Linked DNA regions of Homo sapiens: region 1 is linked to region 2. A link means that fine-mapping ties the variant in region 2 to the expression of a gene that starts in the linked region. Tissue or cell type: whole blood. Region 2 holds a variant in brackets; the other region holds the start of a gene. Each region is shown on its reference strand, or each on the opposite one. Region 1 holds the start of TMEM88 (transmembrane protein 88). Region 2 has its middle 25 kb from the start of MBNL1.

Region 1 (8,110 bases), not on the chromosome of region 2:
CGGCCCCGGGAAAAAAAAGCTGAAACTCCAGCATGCAATGAGCAGACCCTAAAGTCCTACAGATCTTAATGGCAGCCACTTCTAACTACCGGATGGCCATAAAGGGTCAACTGTCCCCTCACTATATCCATGCAACAGAGTAGATTAAAAAGAAAGTCCAATTGCTGTCCAAAACGGCGTGTAAGAGCTTCGAAGGACCACCATCACTAAGATACATGAACTGCTGTTCCCAGGCTTATAAAGGAGTCTCTTGTCCCCCTGTGACCCAGACACTCCTAGAATTCCCAACCCTGGGGACCTAGGTGCTGTGCTTTCCTCAGTTGCCTCAATGTAAAGGACAGAAAATACACTCCCACCGGTTATGGAAAAAATGTTGCCCTGAAGATCGGCCTGGAGATTTGCTGGGATTCCCCATTCCTTCTAACCTGCTCCTTGTCACCAGTTCTCACCTCCAGTGTGTGCTCCTGCGACGTGAGCGTGTTAATGATGCGGATGCTCCGGGTCTTGGCAGACAGCCGCCCCACCTCATAATACGACCCCTGCCACCAGGGCTTCCCAAAATCGTTGGCCCAGTCCGAACAGGGCAGCTGAGGCGGAACGTGCACAAAGCGGCCCCGCGGGGTGCAGTACCTCAGGCAGCCGGTCAGCGGATCTATGTGCTTGCGGATCTTTAAAGGAGGGTTTGGGGCGAGGGTGTCAGAGCAGCCATTAGGCTCTGGCTAGCCTCCGCCTTTCCTTCCCATCCCCGCTCTCCATTTCCTCTACCCACAATCCCAGGTTCCAGCATAACTCACGTCTCTGGTCTTTGGATCAAACCAGTGGCTGATATCCTGGCCTGCAACTTCCACGATGGGTTTCAGCAGCAGGTTCCCTTGAAAAGAGCAGCACAGCCACTGTCAATGCCAGCCCTTCGAGAACCAGGCAAACGCGCGCGTGCACACACACACACTCCGGCCCCGGCCCAACGTGTGGCCCTTACCCTTGTATTCCTGTGCCAATGACGTTAGGTCGTACACGCGTCCCAGGTAAGATACCCAGAGGTCTTCGGGCCTGTTATGTTGGGCCACCTCCGCCGGCGTGAAATAGCGACGCTGAAAATACTCCAAGTCTGGCCCAGCCACCAGGCCCCGGCGCGGCATGGCTCTTGCTCTGTCGGTCACTGGATCTCTTGGTTACTCCTTTGCTCCTCAGCACGTACTCACTACTACTACGACCTCCGTCGCGTCCGGGAGCCGAGGGGAGAGCGTTTATCCGCTGACATGGAAACCATTGTCCTTTTCCGGCCACCGTCCACTGAGATAAATATCAGGGGCGGGGTTTGGACTGCACGTGTTCACGGGAAACGTAGTATGAGTCCCGCGTGGGGCATATAAGGATCAAGTAATTGAGTTGCGCCGCTTTCAGGAGTTGCGGGGTGGGGCAGAGAACGAATACGCTCCGTTTTAATTCAGTGGCCTGGGCTACATGGGATATTTAGGACAGACTATCTCTCTGAGACAGAAAAACAAGGGAGGAGGCAGTATGAAAGAATGTATTCTCGCTAAATTCCAGTTTCTAAAGGATGTGTAAGAAACCAGAGGTAAAGGTCTCGCGATATCTTAAGACATCCGGCGTAGTACGCTTCAGTGAGCCACAGCGCTAGAGAAGTAGGAGAAGCTCGCGAGATCTGTGCCGTTGCCGAGGAGACTAGGAGGGGGAGGAGAGGGGATCTCGCGAAAGGAAAGAGGTCGGGAGCGCTCGCGAGATCTCGGACCACCCAACCTGAAAGGTGCTTAGGAAGTTGAAAGGCCCAGAGGAGGCCTCCGGGCAAATGGCCGGAGCTGGACCGACCATGCTGCTACGAGAAGAGAATGGCTGTTGCAGTCGGCGTCAGAGCAGCTCCAGTGCTGGGGTTAGCACGGGCTCTGGTTCTGGGACTGAGGGGCAGTCAAGCAGCAAGATGGAGGGGGTGGGGAACTGCAGCTCCCGGCAGCCTCTGGGCTTTGTGTGAGTGCCCCGCGGGCTGCCGGGAGCTGTGGTTCCGCGGGCGGGCAGCCTGGGCTGCGCGGTCTGAGCGCTTGTTACACCCCGCGCAGGATTCGGACGGAGAGCGCGAGGACTCGGCGGCTGAGCGCGCCCGACAGCAGCTAGAGGCGCTGCTCAACAAGACTATGCGCATTCGCATGACAGATGGACGGACACTGGTCGGCTGCTTCCTCTGCACTGACCGTGACTGCAATGTCATCCTGGGCTCGGCGCAGGAGTTCCTCAAGCCGTCGGGTCAGTGCCCGGGGAATGCACACCCGCCTGGTAATGTGGCGGAACCTTACGCAAGGCATTTCCCCTTAAGGGCCTGGCTGCAACCCTTGTTTTCTGGGGCTCGTTTTCGTGGCTCAGAGGGGCGGGACTGATTCTGGCCTACTTTCCTGATGCTCTGATCCTTCTTTCCAGATTCCTTCTCTGCCGGGGAGCCCCGTGTGCTGGGCCTGGCCATGGTACCCGGACACCACATCGTTTCCATTGAGGTGCAGAGGGAGAGTCTGACCGGGCCTCCGTATCTCTGACCACGATGGCGCTTACCTTTCAGACTTCATTAAACTTATGACCGAATGGGCCTGTGTCTGTGTGTAGCTGGGATGCCGGTGCAGGATAGCACACCCCATCCCTAGAGGAAAGGGCTCATCTGAAGTCGGGAGCACCCTCAACCCTCCTCTCCCAACCAAGATGTCCAGGGGTGCCAAAGGTTCTCTCAAGTTCAGGGGTAGAGATGGGGGGCAGGGCTGAATGACGGACCAACAGGCCCCAGGGTGGGCCCCTGCATCTTCCCTCCCACGGCTGCTGCTCCAGAATTGTGGCGGGAGGGGGTGTCATCCTGCTCCGGAAGGCCCATTGTTTCCCACCCCGGCCTGGCAACACCGAGTTCCTCTAAGCTGGGGTCAGAGAACGGGCTCAGGTCCCCAAGGGGAGCAGCGGCAGGCGGCCGAGGCTGGGCCCCTCCACTCTATTGAGGGGGAGGTGCCTGGGGTCAGGAACAGATCTCTGAGGTCTGGCCAGGAAGAACGGACAAAAGCGATAAGGCCAGGGGGCTCAAGGATGCTCCTCTCTGCTCATTTGTAGCCCTGGCACATGTTTCCTGTTCCTCGGCACAGGGCAGGGGTGATAGTACTTGTGCCACGCCTCTGTTCGCAGAGCGCGTTCAGTTCGTTAAATCTTTATTGATGCGTGGACACTCCTTCCCCTCCAGCCCCGCCCCCCAGCCCCAGAAATACTAGAGAAGCTGCACCATAAAACGAGGGCACGAGATTGTTGTCCCATTCACGACGGAGCTGAGGGGGAGGTGTGCAGGTTCCAGCCTAGATGTTCAGGATTGAGATGTGGGTCGTGAAAGGAAAGTGGGTTTTCCGGGATGTGGGGGCTTTTCTCAGCACTGGGTCCACTGACGCTGCTGCTCCCAAGGGGATGCTAGGACTCCGCTCAGGCAGGGGTGGGGGCAGGGCAGGTCGGAAGATGCCGGGCTTCAAGTCCTTGGGCCGAATAAGAGGGAGGGCAGCCGTCAGGGTTGTTCTTGACTCGAGGGTCATTAGACCCAGACCTTTCCTGATGTGGGAACGGCCTGGGACCCTGGTGAGGCCCGGATTTGCCGCGGCTGCGGGGCGCGCCGACGCCGATAAAGGGCTCGGCTGTAGGGCACGAGGCAATCGGCTAGGCGGAGGCGCAGGCAGAGGCGGCGGTAGCTGGCCAGAGCAAGCACGAGCAGCGGCACGAGGAGCAGGAATCCGGTGACCAGTAGGGCCGTGAAACCGGGGTCCCGCAGGTGCGCGGTGCAAGGGGGTGCCTGGGAGCGCAGGAACTGTGGGAGAAGAGGCGTCAGGCCCAAGCCGACCAGGCGATACTGTGCACGGGGTGGAAACAGCCCAGGCGGGTTGAAGTTGTGGCCCATAGACCCCACCGCCAGCATCACCACACACCAACACTCACACTCACACGCACACCCCGGGGCGCACGCTCACCTGAGAGTGGCAGAGGAAGCCGAAGCCCAGCATGGTGACAGCGGGTAGCAAGATGGTCCCTAGCACCAGCACCAGCAGGAGAAGATTGAAGGCAGCCACCAGCAGATTCTGGGCTGTTACAAGAACAGCGCAGGCCCAACAGTCCAGGGGGTCCCGGGGCTCTGGGCCGTCACCAGGAACCGCTCGCTGTGCCCCGGGGACATCCGCCATGGCCCGCCTGGATCCCGCCCGCCTGGGCCGCTGCCCTTATAGCCCTCTTTCCTGCCCCTCCCCCGGCCCAGCCTCTCCCCACCCCCCTTATCCTGGAATGCGGCTCTAGGATTAGGCACCCCCCATCCCGAGGAGCGGACCAGAGCCCTGGACATTCCACAGGCGCCTCCGGGGAGGGGCTCACCCTCGCCAGGGTCTGCGCAGTCCTCCCCATCAATCACGGTCTTGCAGCCCTCCCGGTACTCAACCTGCTACCACCAGCCGTTAGCGAAACAGGATTTTTTTTCTCCGTTTATTTTTAATATTAATATTCTCACACAAAAATCACCGAAAATAGGGGTAGGGTTGGGAAGACCCCTCTGCCCCTGGGGCAGAGAGACAGTGCAGTGCGAGGGTGCGGGACTGTAAACCCCCCACCCCTCCGCAGCCCCAGCGTGGAGAAAAAACAACCAACAAAACGAAAATAAAGCCCCAGAGAAACTCACCCCGGGGTGTCCCTGCCCCAGTGAGGCCCTGGCCCTGGGTTGTTTCACACTTAAAAAGAAAAGGGGGTGGGGGTGAAGGTCTGTGTTTTTTAAAGTTGGCCGGGGCTGGGAAGGACGGGGTTCCTTTTCCTCATAGTTCTTTCTTTAAAACCTTTAATTTTTTTATTTTATTTATTTTTTTTACAAAATACCATTTCAGTTCCCACTTCTTCCCCTACAGTACAGGAGTTGCTCACCCTCAGGTGGGGCTGGGGTCGGGTCGGGAGTGGGGGGACTGGTCCGAGAAAGTGCAGGACGTAGGGGAGGGGAGCGGGTTTGAGCACCATGAGAACCCGGCTGGAGCCGCGGGCGGACGGGTGGAGACGGTCGGGCCGGGCCCGGACACACACTGGGGCGCGGGGAGAGCCCGGCGACGGGCGGTCCCTGGAGGGGCGGGCAGGATGGCTTGGGGGTGTGGGAGGTCGGGTTTTCCCAAAAATGAATAAATAGAGGTGAGTGGGACTGTTATAAATTAAAAACAAAAAAACAAGAAAAGAACAAAAAATACAAATCATAACCAAGTGAATAAAGAGACATGTACAGGGGTCACAGCTAGCATTGGAAGTAAAAAAGGAGGTTCCGGGGGAGGGGTAAAGCCCATAGAAAGAATCTCATTAAAAACCTCGGCTGCCGTAACGTCTATGTACATACACGAGCCGCGTGCATCTGCGCCGGGCGGGCGGGCGGCTGGCAGGGTGAGGGAACCCGTATGTGACCCCCGCCGCCGCCGGAGCCTGGTCCTTGTGTCTGTTGCTAAAAAGGCCAAAGTCGGTGAGGGGAGGCGCTGGTGGGCGAGGGGCTGCCAGCCCCCTCCCCCGTCTCCCATTTTTTTTCCTTTTTTCCTCATATTTGCTAAAAAAAAAAAAAAAGTTTTTCTTAATAAATTAAGTGAGGGGAGCTGCCAATGGGGTGGAAGGGCTGGGCCCGACCCCCTTCTCGGCCACAGGCGGGACCTAGGTCCAGCCCAGGCATGTGCTGGTGGCCCCGCGGCGCCTTGCGCGGGCAGGCAGGCGGGCGGGGCGTCCGGCCTCATCGCGACGTGCTGGCTGGGGCCTGGGGGGAGAAAGCCGGCGGGGGCTCAGGGAAAGGCGCGGCCGGGCTCCCGAAGCCCGTCCCTGCAGCCTGCCCCAGTGCCCTCCTCCGCTGCCCGCGCGCCCGCCGGGCCCTCACCAGCGTGAAGGCGTCGTAGGCCTGAGCCAGCTCCTCAGTGCGGTACTGCTCCAGCACCACCACGCCCTGCAGGCCTGCGCTGCGGCGCCGGGCACAGCCCTCGCAGTGTACCAGGTACGTGTTGCGGCTGCCATTCTCACTTGTCACGAACAGGATGTTAAACACCTCCACCTGGGGCAGGGAGGACAGTGCAGTCAGGGGGAGGGAGGGCCACTGTGGACACTCAGGGAGAGCAGCAGAGCCGGCCCACTCACATCGCACTCGTTGCAGTAGTAGGCTGGCTCGTCCTTGACACGGCCCTGGTAAGCGATTTTCTTCCCTGCCCGCACCAGGCTCTCGCGTTGCACCTGGCAGTGCTTCATGGACTGCAGCAGGCAGAACCTGGGGAGCAGTGGGGTTGTGTTGAGACCACCGGCAAGGAGGAGGCCTGAGGCAGGGCTGGAGCAAGGGCAGAGGGGTGGGCAGCCCCAGGGCCCTCCCCTAGGGGCCTCCCCGCTTCATGTCTAGGTCACATCCTCTGTCCTGGGCATCTGTTATAGGCGAAGTTTCCTGTGGCTTTTGTCTATTTGGACCACTAGAAAAGGTCATGACAGCAAGGACCTAGTTAGCCTCCCCAACACAGTAACACTCGGGGCACAGGCAGACAAGGATGGAGAGAGGTAAAAATGGGGTGGAGTCAGACAGGAAGAACAAGAAAAGGGACCAGTCAGTGGAGGTGGGCTCCCACCCAAATAGGGTCCTCACTTGATCATCTTGAACAAGTCGGGGTCGCTGATTTTGACCGTGCGAGCCACGTTCCATGACACGTGAATCATGGGCACGATGGATTTGACGTTCTTCACCTCATTCCACTCGTATCGTTCCAGGGCCAGCTGGTACTGATAGGCTGCGGGCCAAAGGCGATCACAACAGGACTCTCAAACAGCCCCCAGACACCTAGGCCCAAGCCCCTTCCCTCACTGCTGGCGGCTCTCCAAGCCCCAGCCTCCCAGGCCCTTGCCGCTGAGGCGCCACACCACGCCAACACCTGCCCCACCCTCTCACCGGTGAGGGGCCCCACGTTCCAGGCAATGTTGTTGCACCAGCCGGTGGCCTGCACCCAGTGCACAGTCCCCGCATTAATCCACACGAGGTCTCCGGGTCGCTGCACGAAGCGGTACACAGGAATATTGGATGCATAGAGATCATCCAGGATTGGCCACCAGGAACCCGTCAAGTAGTCCACGCCGTGCCTGCGGGGTGGCCACAGGTCAGGTGGGAACTGGGGACCGAGGGCGGGGACGCGGCAGTCTGACTTGCGCAGGACGGCACGCACCGATCACAGAAAGCGCTGATGGTCTCCCAGTAGTGCTCGTGCACCGCGAACCACTCGCAGTCGCCTGGGCCAATGTTGATGTTGACGGAGCAGAAGTTGTTATTCTCCTGGTGGCCTGCAGGGGTCGACAGAGAACGGCATGGCTGGCCAGGTCGGAACTGCGATCCCCGATAGCCCCGCCCTCTGCCCTCATTGGCTGACGGCTGAGCGCCGCCGCCAGCCCCTCCTCTCGCGCTTCCAGCATCAGCGCGCACAGGCGTGGAGCGCACCTGGCGTTCGGCTGCCGGGCACCTTCATGTACAGCTGCACCGTGTTCATGCCCAGGATGGTGTGGCCCACGTGGCTCAGCATGTTGCCCGTGGATGTTACCCGCATGAAGGCGGGCAGCTTCAGCAGCTCCTGCAGCTGGGGCTTCCACCTGCGGTGCGGAAGTGCGACGAGAGGCTACACCCCGCCCCCGCCACGAGGTCCTAGCAGCACTCCTGCCCCAACTTCCCTGGCCTCAGCCCCACTGACCGCTTAGCATCAGACAAGTCGATGTTGGTGCCAAACTTGATGATGTGATGGTTCTTCGGGTCTGGTGCGCTGCTGCTGGGGCGAAGAGCACAGGTTGGTGGAGAGCAGAGGGAGGGGAAGGAAGCAGGAACAGAAGGGGCACACCTGCACAGTACCTAGGAGGGGTTCCAGTGGTGCTGTCTGGCTCCTCTGACTCCTCATCCTCACTCTCCTTCTCCTCCTGTTCAGCCAGAGGGTAGGCAGGCCTGGGTCAGAGACCTTTCGAGAGCCCTCCCACCGCAGCCCCGTCCCAGGACCTGCCTCTGGCCACGTTCTCATCTCACCTGCAGAGACTCCTGGAAGGATGAGGCCTGGTACTGTGCGTACTTGGCAATGGTGGTGTGGGA
Region 2 (8,527 bases):
TAAAAGCAACCTACTTAAAATTTTTTCTTGTGCAAAAGAAAATAGATTGAATTAAGGTACACTTTTAAAAATTTTACTTATTTTTTCAAAATCAAAACTGTGGTGATTTTTCTCAAAATCATATTGCAATTTATTTTTTCCCAAGGTGAGAAAAATTTTGAGAATGTGATAACCACTACATATTAAAAAAAAACTAAAGGCTCATGATGAAATATCTGTAAAGTAGAATAATAATGAGGTATGAAATTTTATACTGGTTCATGGAGCAACACCAATAGACTAACTTCATTCTTCATCTGCTTTCCAAGGTTGCAATATTAATGAATGATTCTAATGACATTTTTATTTAAATTTGGATTTAAATATGCAAATCTGGTATTTTCCCCCATAATATTAAAAGCAAAAAAATTAAATAAAAAGTTAAAACCTATATTTAGAAAATGTATATAAAGATAAAAATAAAACTGGAAGGAATTTTAAAAACATTAAATCTAAGTGCCTAATTTTAGTTAATAAAAAATGATAAAAAGCATCAATGATGTCAGACAAATAACAGAACTATACTAATTCTCAAATAACAAGTTATATTTTAAAGATTAAAAATTAATGAACAGTGGTTTTATTTTCTACAATGCAGATATGTAAATTAGATTCCATTTCATTTATTTTTTTAAATGGAAGTATTCAGAAATATAAAATGGCTTACCCTTATTCTTTATATCTGTAAAAGGTATTTTCTTTTCATGTATCATGAAAATGATACATATTTTATCATACAGAGCTCATGTACTGTCATAGCTCATATTTTTGCAATCATAATAATTTCTTATTTATTTAGCATATTTTAATTATATGTGAATATGCAAATATAGCAATCATTTGGAATTTACATTTATTAAAAATAAATAGAAAGTCAACAAACACAGGAGGGCACAAATTTTCTTTTAAATGGCTGAAAGACCCACATTATCTGGGATACAAAGATTTTTGTTTTTCAATAACAGGTCATGTCTCTGAGTTTGCACCCAAACTGTAATCTTTCTTTCAGGCAACAAACTTTCTTCTCTTTATTCTTGCAAATGGGAAAATGGCCAAAAGAAGAGGAAACAAAACAGCTAAACAAAAACTAAATCTTTCAATGTTCTTTTGGAAGTTCAGTAATTTATGTCAAAAACAAATAGCACTGTTATTCCTAAATGTAATTATTATTTGAAAAATAATATACGTTTATTTGTTGGAGTGGGATAGAGCCCTCTATAAGCAGATCATTCTTTTCTATTTCTATAGATGAGCAACTTTGGGAAGGTCATCTTGTGAAGGAGGAGGAGAACATCCATTTAACTGTGAGATTAGCAGCATCAACCCTGGACCCAATAGTTTAATAGACCCCCAAGAAGATCATCCACTTCACACAATCAAACTATGCCTTATTAAGACAGAGACCAAATTTTACAATACTATACACAGCAGTCATCCAGTCTCAATTTTTATTAGATTCAATGAAAACTTCTTAGACAATCATGTCACATAAACATAATCTACTAAAACACAGTAAAATATATACTACAGCTCAGAAGCCAAAATTAAATTTTCCAGTAATAAATTATTTATCATATTTATGATGAATAAACAATAATATTAAATAATTAATATTAAATATTTGTTAATATTTATTTACCATTAATATTATCATGGAAACTCAGATGAGCACTCATTTTTTTCTTATGTAAAGACAATTTTATCAAAGAGAGAACAACTTAAAAACTTATTTTCCATAATCTAGAACTAGGATGTTCATTCAGACTTTACTAATTATTGACAACAACAACAACAACAACAAATCTGTCTTGCCAGAAAGATAGTATCTTCTCTGCTGCTTTAGCCTTCATTTGCTGTTCTGAATTACACTTATGACCAATTTATATTGTAATCTCCTTGGGCTATGTTTCCTTGTGATTGTTAGCCATTATTTAGTATATTACCATACTACATATAACACTTAATAGCTCATGATATCAAAATATCTCATAGTTAAAATTGTGGACATTTGAACTTCTGATGGAAGTAGTTGTGTTTATTTTTAAGGTTTCTTTATTTTTATATTTTTAGAGACAGAATCTGGCTCTGTCACTTAGGCTGGAGTGTAGTGGTGCAATCACAGCTCACTGCAGCCTTGATCTTCTGACTTAAGCCATTCTCTTGCCTCAGCCTCCAAAGTAGCTGGGACTACAGGCTTGAGCCCCTAGACCTGACAAGCAGTTGTGTTTAATTAGTGTGTGATAAAGATGAAGAAGCACAATTGTAACGGATTTCTAACAACCATCAACTTAATTTTAAAATTTTCATCGAGTTAAGTATGTCAAATTTGATTCAACAATTCACATCTGAGTTTGTAACAGTAACACTCTGCTTTCCTTCTCCCTATAATAAGAAGACAGCAACTATTGGTGCAACTTATTGGTGTAGTGCATGAAAATACGTAAAACAAACCAACAAAAAACCAACTAGGTACTAGGTAACATACTAGAACCAGTAATAACAGCACCATTTACCAAAATTTATCAAAAATTAAATCTATTAATTGATGGGATAGTGTGGACTTTCTTTTTTGGAAGCCATGAGATTAGTCTAATTTTTTCAAACCAAATTAAGAAAGCTTCAAATACATCTTGGGATATTTATACTTACCAAATCTCACACGGTAAATGTGTGATGTATGAAACTTTCTCAAAAGGATTCAATTATGAAAATGCTCAGAGGCAAACTCTTCAAACCTCCATATGTATATATAGCCAGAGTAGTTCACTTAAACAGATTTTTCTTCTCAAAGCTGTATTAAACACTCCTTAATGTTTTTACCAAAGTATAAAGAAACCAACAGCTTTTAAAAGGAAGATTTAAAAATTGCTATATTATGAATACAATTGTATTAAATACAGTTAATATGTGTAGGTATTATTCTGGATTAGTGCAAATTTGAATAAAAGTTTCTAGGATCTAGATTATTTTAGAATTTCACTAATAAGATCAGTTTCAGTTTAGTTTGATTTCCAATTATCAAACCAAATGTCTTACTTTGTTTTCATTCTTACTATATTTTAAGCATTATAAATACAAATTAAACTTATTTAGAAAACAATACATTTTAAAAATTAGATTTGCATATTTCATTTAAAATTTTAAGTCATGCTGTCTACACTACAAATTAATTTTTCTAAACAAATATCATCATAAAGTGATGATATAAAAATAATACTGAAATGTCATATTTTAAATGATACAATATATTTTCACGGTGGGTAAAAACAAATGTAAGAATGCTTTTTTTTCTGGAAAGTGCTCAACTAATAATATGCAAAATGAACAAAAGTATATCTGTGAGAGAATATTAGAAATAATCTAGAGCTGGGAAAGAAGAAAAGTTATCAAATTTGTTAATAATCCAAATGCCTCTTCAGCACTAAATTGTGTGCAAAATTACAAATACACAAGAAAGATAACGTTTTATTTTGCAGGTAAAATAATTTGGAGATCAATGAAAACTTTAAATTTTTCCAGGTTTTTAAAAGCTTGTATGTGAAGCTGAAGCTTTGTAAATGTATTAAACTTTTTATTTAAAATGTCGGTTACTTACTTGAAAGAGTTATCAGGTTTATCTAATCTACACTGTAATGTGGCCAGCATTTAAATTGTTGCTATATAAATAGCAATCCAAATAATAAAATGAAAAATAGCAAATAATTGTTCTTACCTCTATGCTTAGTTATAGTTGCTTGTTAAGCTGCTTCATGGGTTGAGACAAACTACCAGCACTTCAAAGAGCTCAGTTCTCTGCTCAACTCTCTTCTCTAGTTACATTATTTTTTTTCCTCTGCAAAAGGATAGTCCACCAAAAGAGGAAGTTATGAAATAACAGTCATTATGCTTTATCCATTTTATGGGGCATGGAAAATTATTCATAAAGCTTACACTTGAAATCACAGCAACAGGCTATAATTGGTGCCTGTACACATATATAATTAAAGTATATGCATGTTTATATGTGTAAGCAAATTTTAGAAAAGTTAAGCTATTGAAACCTATAGTTGGCCTGGCACGGTGGCTGACGCCTGTAATCCCAGCACTTTGGGAGGCTGAAGCGGGCAGATTACCTGAGGTCAGGAGTTCAAGACCAGCCTGGCCAACATAGTGAAACTCCGTCTCTACTAAAAATACAAAAGTTAGCCTGGCATGGTGGCAGGCGTCTGAATCCCACTTACTCAGGAGACTGAGGCAGGAGAATCGCTTGAACTCAGGAGGCGGAGGTTGCAGTGAGCTGAGATCGCGGCCATTGCTTTCCAGGCTGGGAGACACAGTGAGACTCCATTTCAAAAAAGAAAAGAAAAGAAAAGAAACCTATACTTGATTAAGTAGTGCTCGTTTACATAAGGAAGCATCTCCTGTGTGGCTCAATGATCACAGAAAACATTGCTCTATGCAGAAGAAAACTGTCCAGCTGATATATGGGAATTAACTTGCTTTTACAAGTCTAATTAATTTAAAGTCTTTGAAGTATGACACAAATGCTAATCTGACTACAGGCATCTTATTAAAGGAAGAAAAAAAAAAAACCTCCAGTAAACAGACATTTTCCTGGAATTTGGGTAGCGGTTTTTTACCTACAAGTCTCAAACTTCCTTTCTCATGAATAGTTGCCTGTTACATATAGATAAAGCACTGCAAAACTGAAACTGTTACTTACACATGAACTATGGTCTTTCACTACTTCAGCCACAAGAGTAAAAAACAGGTGCAGAGGTGCAGATCCTGCAAAACTGAACATTTAGCTGGCTAAGTTTCTTACAGGTTGGAGTAGTAAATGAGAATATTTAAAGGACAGTAGGGACAATGGTTGAAAAAAGACATAAAAAAGTTGATCAAAGCAAGTACTACTGCCAAATTCAAATAAAAGGATATATACAAATATATTTATCATGGGTTTAGGTTGCCAGATAATAGAAGCCAATGTGTAGCTTCATTTTTTATGTGTGGCAGTTGCTCCCAA[A/C]CTCCCTTGCTCATTGGGGAAGAAGGAGATGGATTGCAAGAGCAATACAGTAATTATGCAAACCTCCACATGTTGCAAGAACCACTTTCTGGACTTTAGAAGCTATCATGCTGTCACTGCACCACACTCTTTGCTTTTTATTTAACCTTATGTCCAAAGAGGCATTAAAGAGTACTTAGACTGGGCACAGTGGCTCACGCCTGTAATCCCAGCACTTTGGGAGGCCGAGGTGGGTGGATCACTTGAGGTCAGGAGTTCGAGATCAGCCTGGCCAACATGGTGAAACCCCATCTCTACTAAAAAAAATACAAAAATTAGCCAGGCACTTTGGCAGGCCCCTGTAATCCCAGCTACTCAGGAGGCTGAGGCAGGAGAATCCCTTGAACCTGAGAGGCAGAGTTTGCAGTGAGCCGGGATCCTGCCACTGCACTCCAGCCTCGGCCATAGGGTGAGACTCCGTCTCAAAAACAAACAAACAGAGTAATTAGGAGATGATTAGAAGCTGAAATATTTTCCATTTCACCTAAACTCATACTTAATGTGAGTTTGCAGGAAGTTAAATAAACCAAATGCAGAAAGCTGTCCCCTCCATAAAACGCACAAAAAACAAAAACAAATAAACGAACAAAACCCCAGTATGTCATTGATATCAAATTTTATTTGAATTCCTTTGTGAACTACTTATAAGGAAATCCCTACAGAGAAGTTGTCAATGTGATTAAAATTGCTTAGATTCTATGTGTTTAGACAAATTTTAAATATTATTGTATTTGGGTATCATTATATAAAACACTAGGCTTATCAGTCCCCAAAGACCCAGTCACACTCTGGAAGCATAGTCCTCAATGTCTGCTGTAATTTTAATGTATTTCCTCAATATTTGTGTACCTTTTGCCTGAATAGTGGATGTATATCTCTACTTCTCTTCTTCTCTAATGATCCCTTCCAGGCTGATAAATATGCTCAAGTTTCTTCCCTATTAAAAATTCCTCCTCTGACTGACTTGTCATATTACTTTCTTTTTCTTCATCAGAACTTTTTGAGAAAGTTGCCCACATTGACTTGAGCCCTTATATCTTTTTTGTATGTGTGTATGGTAGAATATATTTAACAAAATTTACCATTTGAACCATTTTTAAATGTACAGTTCAGAGGCATTAAGTACATTCACACTGTTAGGCAACCATCACCACCATCTATCTCCAGAACTTTCTCATTCTTCTAGACTGAAACTCTGTACCTATTAAACAATAACTGAACGTTCCTTCCTGCCCTCAACCTGGCAACCACCATTCTACTTTCTATCTCTATGAATGTGATTACTCTAGGTACTTCATATGAATGGAACCATATGACATTTGTCCATTTGTGTCTGGCTTATTTCACTTAGGTTCATCAAAGTTGCAGCATGTGTCAGAATTTCCTTCCTTCTTAAAGCTGAATAATATTCTATTGTATGTATATACCACATTTGTTTCCTATTTATCAGATGATGGACACTTGAGTTGTTGCTATCTTTGGCTATTGAGAATAATGCTGCTATAAACATGGGTGTGCAAATATCTGTTTGAATCTTTGCTTTCATTTTTTTTGTATATACACCCAGAAGTGGAATTGAATCATACTGTAATTTTATACTTTTTGAGGACCCACCATACTAAGTCCACCTATCTTTCTCACATTTCTTCCTCCTGCATGGGTTTCTGCTTCCTCCTATTTATCAAGACTCTTGCCAAAATCACCAGTGATCTCCCTGTTACCAAATCCAAAATCCAAAAGCCCTCTTACTTGACCTGTTTTCAGCACATGCCAATGTTGACCACTTCCTCCTCCAGGAAATGTTATCTGTCTTTCAGCTCTTGACTTCACTCTCACCTTCTGATTATGTGGCAACTTCTCTGATTTATTTATGAGTCTTTAAACTCTGCTCCTCTAGTAAATGTTGCCACTTCTCAGGATTCTGTCCTGGGCTTGCTCTCCTTACCCGACAATCTCACTATCCTTGCATGGTTTTAACTGGCAAATACTGATTGCTCCCAAATCTCTGTTTCCAACCCAGTTATCTCCCTAGAAAAGTTTTCACCAATGCAAAATATAAAATCATTTCTACTTGCAATGTACAGAAAAGAGTCTGCATAGAGGCCCTAAGATAAGCCTCAATTAATTTTTCAATTCTACTATTGTTTAAACTTCAGCAGGTCAGGCAACATTTTTGAGCCCTATTTCCTCACCTGTAAATGGGGCCTTAAATGACCACCTAATACGGTTACTGGAAGTATAAAACAAAGACTACTTAAACACTTTCTTATGTTTATAGTATTAAAAATACAGTTAAAGCAAAAGTCCATTTTAATTCCCTCTAACATGATTCTTCTCCCTAGAAATAAGTAATACTATCAGTTTGATGTGTATACTTGCTTAACTATTTCCTGTATAATTACCTGTAAGACACATAAGGAGTTAAATAATTTTGTGGGGTTTTAATGTAAATAACATCACACTGTATGTTCTTCACTGGGACTTTTAAAAAGCTTAATATGGCTTGAAGGTATCCCAAGACATACTTTTGAACTGATTCATATATATCTAATTCCCTCACTGATTGAATTTGTGTTACTCTTCACAGCTAAAAATAATGTGATCAGTTGAGCATTTTAAATATCTCTCTAAAAGTAGTACAAGTCTTTATGTGAGGTAGATACAGGAAAGTAGAATTGTTAGGTCAGAAGGCATATACATTTAAAATGTTAATTGTCACTGCCAAATGGCCCAGTCAAAAAAGGTTTAATCTCCAACATTTCCTGTTTTTTTATGCGATTGCCAGTATTTGCTTTAATTAAACTTTTAAAGATTTGCCAATCTGATGGACAAGAAAATGGAGTCTTAATATTTTTATTTTGCTTTTCCCTGATTACTGTGGATATTGAACACATATTAATGTTGTATCCTCCTTTACAATTCCAGTTTTGTGAACTACCTGTTAATTCATTCCAAACTTTTCTTTTTATTTTATCTCATTATTATTTTTTTTACCTGATCACCTACTACCAGGACCAAACATTTCTTTATTGCATAATTGTCAGCTTTTTATTGATATGTAGGATTATAAGTACATTCTGTTTGAATGCATTGCAATAATTTTTCTTTTTTGGTGATGGTCCATTCTCCCCATCCTCCATTTTAGGGCTTTTCATGCTGGCTATGGTAACCTCTTGAGATGACCCTAATATTCTCTGATAATGTCTTTGATTTCTGGCACAAGATAGCCAGGTTCATTTTGTGTATTTCTTGCCCCAGAACTGAAATCACCCATTTCTCTAAAGAACCTTCGTTGCTTTTGGTAGACAGGGATTTTTGAGATCACCATCTAAACCTTAGTAGTGCTTATTGCTATTGAGTTATTACTAGCATTTGGAATAAACTCAGTCAACACATTGTTAGTTTCTTCTATGTGCCAAGCAGTACATAATTGCAAGAAAAAAT

The links. PIP is the estimated chance that this variant, and not a neighbour inherited with it, causes the effect.
Region 1: it holds the start of TMEM88, and the variant in region 2 is the best candidate, but not a certain one, in a credible set for the expression of TMEM88 in whole blood (TOPMed, PIP 0.73).

The regions. Positions count from the first base shown.
Region 1 is chr17:7,851,164-7,859,273 of GRCh38, reverse strand. It overlaps TMEM88 (transmembrane protein 88), which reads right to left and starts at 4,208. Exons shown (of 2, transcript NM_203411.2): 1 at 3,990-4,208; 2 at 3,175-3,829. The coding sequence starts at 4,199. The coding sequence ends at 3,560. KDM6B (lysine demethylase 6B) reads right to left here. Exons shown (of 24, transcript NM_001348716.2): 15 at 8,048-8,110; 16 at 7,880-7,944; 17 at 7,725-7,796; 18 at 7,478-7,626; 19 at 7,209-7,323; 20 at 6,938-7,125; 21 at 6,638-6,779; 22 at 6,148-6,274; 23 at 5,894-6,064; 24 at 4,478-5,776. The coding sequence ends at 5,753. NAA38 (N-alpha-acetyltransferase 38, NatC auxiliary subunit) reads left to right here and starts at 1,715. Exons shown (of 3, transcript NM_001320925.4): 1 at 1,715-1,891; 2 at 2,076-2,259; 3 at 2,431-2,589. The coding sequence starts at 1,811. The coding sequence ends at 2,543. It overlaps CYB5D1 (cytochrome b5 domain containing 1), which reads right to left and starts at 1,271. Exons shown (of 4, transcript NM_144607.6): 1 at 980-1,271; 2 at 795-871; 3 at 450-668. The coding sequence starts at 1,139. It also overlaps LOC107987244. RefSeq lists enhancers at 294-1,155, 961-1,180, 1,509-1,803, 1,531-1,900, 1,156-2,018 and 8 more.
Region 2 is chr3:152,239,665-152,248,191 of GRCh38, reverse strand. It overlaps a transcript of MBNL1 not described here. Among named protein-coding and RNA genes, the nearest start is that of MBNL1, 25 kb to the left of the region's middle. RefSeq lists enhancers at 4,367-4,496, 4,627-4,686. The variant A/C (reference allele first, on the strand shown) is at 5,045.